2 linked regions of the Homo sapiens genome follow. The protein of the gene in region 2 purifies or fractionates together with the protein of the main gene of each other region. This does not show direct contact. Each region holds a gene or a part of one and is shown on either strand. Other genes may lie near its edges.

The links. The genes of interacting proteins can lie anywhere in the genome.
Region 1: the proteins of SRP54 (region 2) and SMC4 fractionate together in Homo sapiens (co-fractionation; one large-scale study listed by BioGRID). This does not show direct contact.

What each region holds. Positions count from the first base shown.
Region 1 is NC_000003.12:160,430,650-160,433,051, forward strand, and holds part of SMC4 (structural maintenance of chromosomes protein 4), read left to right. Parts: coding exon 1-94; intron 95-382; coding exon 383-556; intron 557-993; coding exon 994-1,176; intron 1,177-1,633; coding exon 1,634-1,866; intron 1,867-2,376; coding exon 2,377-2,402. UniProt on the Homo sapiens protein: Central component of the condensin complex, a complex required for conversion of interphase chromatin into mitotic-like condense chromosomes.
Region 2 is NC_000014.9:35,017,492-35,020,991, forward strand, and holds part of SRP54 (signal recognition particle subunit SRP54), read left to right. Parts: intron 1-1,200; coding exon 1,201-1,274; intron 1,275-1,474; coding exon 1,475-1,583; intron 1,584-3,500. UniProt on the Homo sapiens protein: Component of the signal recognition particle (SRP) complex, a ribonucleoprotein complex that mediates the cotranslational targeting of secretory and membrane proteins to the endoplasmic reticulum (ER).

The DNA.
Region 1 (2,402 bases), on a different chromosome or scaffold from region 2:
AGATACTGAGAAAGAGGTGGATGACCTAACAGCAGAGCTGAAAAGTCTTGAGGACAAAGCAGCAGAGGTCGTAAAGAATACAAATGCTGCAGAGGTATGAGTTGCTTTGTATTGAAGAGGAGATGGGATGATACTGGAACCAATTTAAAGAGCTGGATATATGACAGTGCCTAGAATGTAGTAAGCACTCATAGACTTAAAGTTTTATAACTATCAATTTTTATTTGTACAATAAGAATACTATAATTTGTGAATTTAAATGCTTAAATTATTTTAAAATGGAAGGGGCATGAGGAGAGATTGGTAATTCCTTCATCTCTGTAATGTGAAAATGATGGCTCTATTTGGAAAATTCTATCTAGCAGTTCTTTTCGGTGTTTAGGAATCCTTACCAGAGATCCAGAAAGAACATCGCAATCTGCTTCAAGAATTAAAAGTTATTCAAGAAAATGAACATGCTCTTCAAAAAGATGCACTTAGTATTAAGTTGAAACTTGAACAAATAGATGGTCACATTGCTGAACATAATTCTAAAATAAAATATTGGCACAAAGAGGTGAGATTGTTACCGTTTAGTTTAATTTTAAACATATTCTTTATGAAAAAGGAGGGTTTGGGGAGGATTGTTTTAGGGGGTTGGGGTTCTTAAATTTTGTTTGTGAGCTACATTGTGATTTTTAATTCTGTGATCACTTCTAAGGTTTATAGGGGACATAACAATATAAATTGTTATATACAGAAAAGTCTGAGTAACGATTAGAATTAGACAACTACCCTTTCACCCTAGGGCTGATCTGGACATTTAAGAAAAGATTACATGGACACTTTTGAGTGTTACAACTATTTTTCTTGAAGTCCTTTGAAAAATAATTGATAAATCAGTCACAACTCCTGTTGTTTTCATAGCTGTGTAATTTGTCATATTTTTTTTTAAACAATGAATTGTATGTAATATTATGCCTTCTCTAACTCTCCCCTAAATTGAACTTTTAGATTTCAAAAATATCACTGCATCCTATAGAAGATAATCCTATTGAAGAGATTTCGGTTCTAAGCCCAGAGGATCTTGAAGCGATCAAGAATCCAGATTCTATAACAAATCAAATTGCACTTTTGGAAGCCCGGTGTCATGAAATGAAACCAAACCTCGGTGCCATCGCAGAGTATAAAAAGAAGGTATGAATGAACTGTGTATGTATACTAGTTGGAGTTCTTTTTAGTCCTTAGCCTAAATTCTGATCTTTAGTTTTGTATAATTAACAATGCTGTTGGCCGGGCGTGGTGGCTCACGCCTGTAATCCCAGCACTTTGGGAGGCCAAAGGCGGGTGGATCACAAGGTCAGGAGTTCGAGACCAGCTGGGCCAACATAGTGAAACCTCATCTCTATTAAAGATACAAAAAATTAGCCAGGCGTTGTGGCACGTGCCTGTAATCCCGGGTACTCGGGAGGCTGAGGCAGGAGAATCGCTTGAACCTGGGAGGTGGAGGTTGCCGTGAGCCGAGATCGCGCCATTGCACTCCAGCCTGGGCGTCAGGGCAAGACTACGTCTCAAAACAAAGTAATAATTAACAATGCTAATTATCATATCAAATTTATCTGAATAGATTTTCCCTATCATAATCTTTTCACAGGAAGAATTGTATTTGCAACGGGTAGCAGAATTGGACAAAATTACTTATGAAAGAGACAGTTTTAGACAGGCATATGAAGATCTTCGGAAACAAAGGCTTAATGAATTTATGGCAGGTTTTTATATAATAACAAATAAATTAAAGGAAAATTACCAAATGCTTACTTTGGGAGGGGACGCCGAACTCGAGCTTGTAGACAGCTTGGATCCTTTCTCTGAAGGAATCATGTTCAGGTGTGTAATTATGCTGAGTTTATAATCCCACTGTTACCTTTTTCTACATATTCTCCAAACTCAGTATTTCTTGGAGGTAGGATGTGAAGGCAAGATGTACAACTTGTTTCATTTACTAGTAAATACTAATTTGCTTGCATGCTATTTATGCTTGCAGTTTACAGGGGCAGACAGCCAGTATTTACAAAATATTTGTCTAGTTCATCTTTTCTTAAATTTTCAAGGCATTTTTAACATGAGGATTGAGAAATTGTATTTGATAAGGAGAAAGAATAGCAAGAAGTATAATACTTAGCTTGCTCTTTAAATCTTAAAACTTTGGTATGTGCTCCTATGTATGCATCCTCCAATAACGTTTTTATAAAATAACAGAAAAGAGAATTCATATTTGTGAAAAGCAAGTTACAGATTCCTAAAAAAGATAGTAGAACTCAATTATGGAAAGCAAATCACAAAGTCTTAACTTTAGCTTTACAGGTAATTTGACTATGATTTTCTTAATCATTTCAGTGTTCGACCACCTAAGAAAAGTTGGA
Region 2 (3,500 bases):
TAATCCTCTCTTCCACTGTTTAATTCTGCGTTTCTAGTTGACTGCTATAACATTTCTTTTAAGATACTGTACTGCCACTTCACATTCAGAATGCCTGAACCAAATACCTTTTCTCTTTTTATCTTTAGGACATAAATAGAAAATACTTTCTCTTTTGGCTTGTTCCATCCCTGTTTTTAAACCTTAGGTTAGTATACATACAATGAAATGCTCAAATCCTAAGGATACCTTTCTTTTTTTGACAAATGCACAGTAACCCACACCCAATCAAGAAACAGAACATTTCCATTACTCTAAAAGGTTTGCTTGTGCCCTTTCCCGGTAATACTTCATATTATAGAAGTCCTGGGCTGTGCATGGTGGCTCACACTGTAATCCTAGTGCTTTAGGAGGCCAAGGTGGGAGGATCATTTGAGGTCAGGAGTTTGAGACCAGCCTGGGCAATGTAGTGAGACCCATATCTCTTAGAAAAATCCAGTGGCATGCATCCATAGTCATAACTACTCTGGAGACTGAGGCAGGCGGTCACTTGAGCTCAAGAGTTTGAGGCTACCAGTGTGTGATGACTGTACCACTTCAATCCAGTCTCAGTGATAGAGCACAACCCTCTTAAAAAAATAAAGAAATTCTGAGTATATCGTTTTTCTTCCAATCTGTTTTCTTTGACTAAGCATATTTTGATATTAATTCATGTAGTTGTACTTATCTATAGTTTGTTCTTTTTATTGCTGAATAATATTTTTTCCACAGTGTATCCATTTTCCTGTTCATAGATACCTAAGCTATTTAAGAAACTCCAAACAATCTTCTAAAGTGTCTTGCTATTCTATATTCTCACCAATATATGGGAGTTCTTTGTGGTCCACATCCACTTTAACTTTTGATATTGTCAACCTTTAAAATTTTACTCATCCTAGTAGGTGTAGTTTATGTGCCTTGTTTTCAGGTTTCTTGTGTGTTTGTATATGTGTCTTCTCAGATAGAATGTAAGCTTCTCTATGATAGGACCTGTCTTTGTCTATGTATTCTCCCCAGCATTCATCCTGTCATCTTGCACATGGTAACTGCTTGGTGAATATTTATTGATGTATATTTTATAAATATGCTTCAAGATGAATTCATGATTAAGGAATAAATTAGTTTTGTTGAATGGAAATGTACATACTTTAATATATCCGAATTATTTACATTGTATTTCAGGTCAGTTTACGTTGCGAGACATGTATGAGCAATTTCAAAATATCATGAAAATGGGCCCCTTCAGTCAGATCTTGGTTAGTTATCCTTAAAACTTTATACCTTCTTTTGTTTTCATTAAATTTTCTAAAATAGATACACTTGCTTTAATTATTTTTACATTCGGGTAAAAATATATCTAAGACTTAGTGTCAATATTAAACCTAATAGTTAAATGTGGACATTTTGAACCATTAATCTTAAGCTACTATTGACTTTATGTTTAAATCTGTTGTAGGGGATGATCCCTGGTTTTGGGACAGATTTTATGAGCAAAGGAAATGAACAGGAGTCAATGGCAAGGCTAAAGAAATTAATGACAATAATGGATAGTATGAATGATCAAGGTAAGATGGCAGATTATTTTCCTCAGGCAAAAATGTTCTGAGTATCAGTAAGATGAGAGTTTCACTGTATTCTTGTGGACAAGATGGGGAGAAATTTAGCCTGAAAGATTATTTTTAGGTAGATTTGTAATAGCTTGAAAGCTCTTACTCAAAGGGTTATGATTATTGGATTGCCTTCATCGTTGAGAGAAATGTCTAGTATAATACTTCTCCAAATGAGTTACAAGGAAAGAACACTAGTTCTTCATGATGTTCATAGAGTTAACTTAAAAGGAGAACTCTGAGTCAAATGTGGTGGAATGCTAGTTTTTAAAGAGTTAAATTTGGCTGGGTGAGGTGGCTCACACCTGTAATCCTAGCACTTTGGCAGGCCAAGGTGGGAAGATTACTTGAGGCCAGGAGTTTAAGACCAACCTGGCCAAACGTAGCAAGACCCTGCCTCTATGAAAAAAAATTATTTACTGAAAGTCTCTTCACGGAGCTTTAATATTGCTAACATACATTGGGAAACTAAGAAATGGATAGCTTAAGCAATGCTTAGAAAATTCTTTCTGTCTGAAACATAAGAATTCAGTTTTCTCAGTATACTGCTCTGTTCCCCTGACCCTATAAAGGCATGCCTCAGAGATACTGTGGGTTTGGTTCTAGACCACTGCAGTAAAGGAAATATCATGCAATAAAGTCAGTCATACAGATTGTTTTGGTTTTCCAGTGTATATAAAAGTTATGTTTACAAATACATATACTGTAGTCTATTAAGTGTGCAAGAGCATTATATCTAAAAAACAATGTATATACCTTAATTTAAAAATAGTTGATTGTTGGCCGGGCGCAGTGGCTCACGACGCCTGTAATCCCAGCACTTTGGGAGGCTGAGGCGGGCGGATCACCTGAGGTCAGGAGTTTGACACCAGCCTGGCTAACATGGTAAAACCCCGTTTCTACTAAAAATACAAAAAAATTAGCCGGGCGTGGTGGCACACACCTGTAATCCCAGCTACTTGGGAGGCTGAGGCAGGAGAATCGCTTGAACCCGGGAGGCGGAGGTTGCAGTGAGCCGAGATTGTGTCATTGCACTCCAGCCTGGGCGACAGAGTGAGACTCTGTCTCAAAAGAAAAAAATAAAAAAATATAGTTTATTGCTAAAAATGCTAATGATCATCTAAGCCTTCAGTGCATTATAATCTTTTTGCTGGTGGAGGGCCTTAGCTTGATGTTGATGACTGCTAACTGATTACAGTGATGGTTGCCAAAGGTCAAGGTGGCTGTGACAATTTCTTAAAACACAAGAATGAAATTTGCCCCATTGATTGACTCTTCTTTTCACAAAAGATTTCTCTGTAGTATTCGATGCTGTTCGATAGCATTTTACCCACAGTAGAACGTCTTCCAAAATTGGAGTCAGTTCTGTCAAACCCTGCTGCTGCTGCTTTATCAACTAAGTTTATGTAATATTCTAACAATTTGAACAATTTTTCATATCTGTGCTTTATCTACTATCTGATTTATTGTTATTTTTTTGTAGTCTCTTTTTCCTGAGCTCCAGGTTTTCATAGTAGCCCAAATAAGACTGTCTTTTTCTTTTAAGGTTGTTTTTTTTCCTCACTGTCTTTAACACTGCAAAAATGTTTGCATGTAGAATTCATAATTGCAGCATATCTAAAGTATCCATTCTGTGCCAGGCACTGTCCTGAGCACTTTAAATATATTAATTCATTTTATCATCATAACAACTCCTATGGCATATTCAGTTATTATCTGCCTTTTTCAAATTAGGAAACTGGGATACAGGGAAGTTGAGTAATTTGCCCAGTATAGAACCTTTCCTGACTTCCTTCCTTCTTTGAATTAACGCCCCTTCCTCTATTTGCTTAACTCTGTCGTATTACTTGCCACGATGTGCTGCTATTAGTTTAT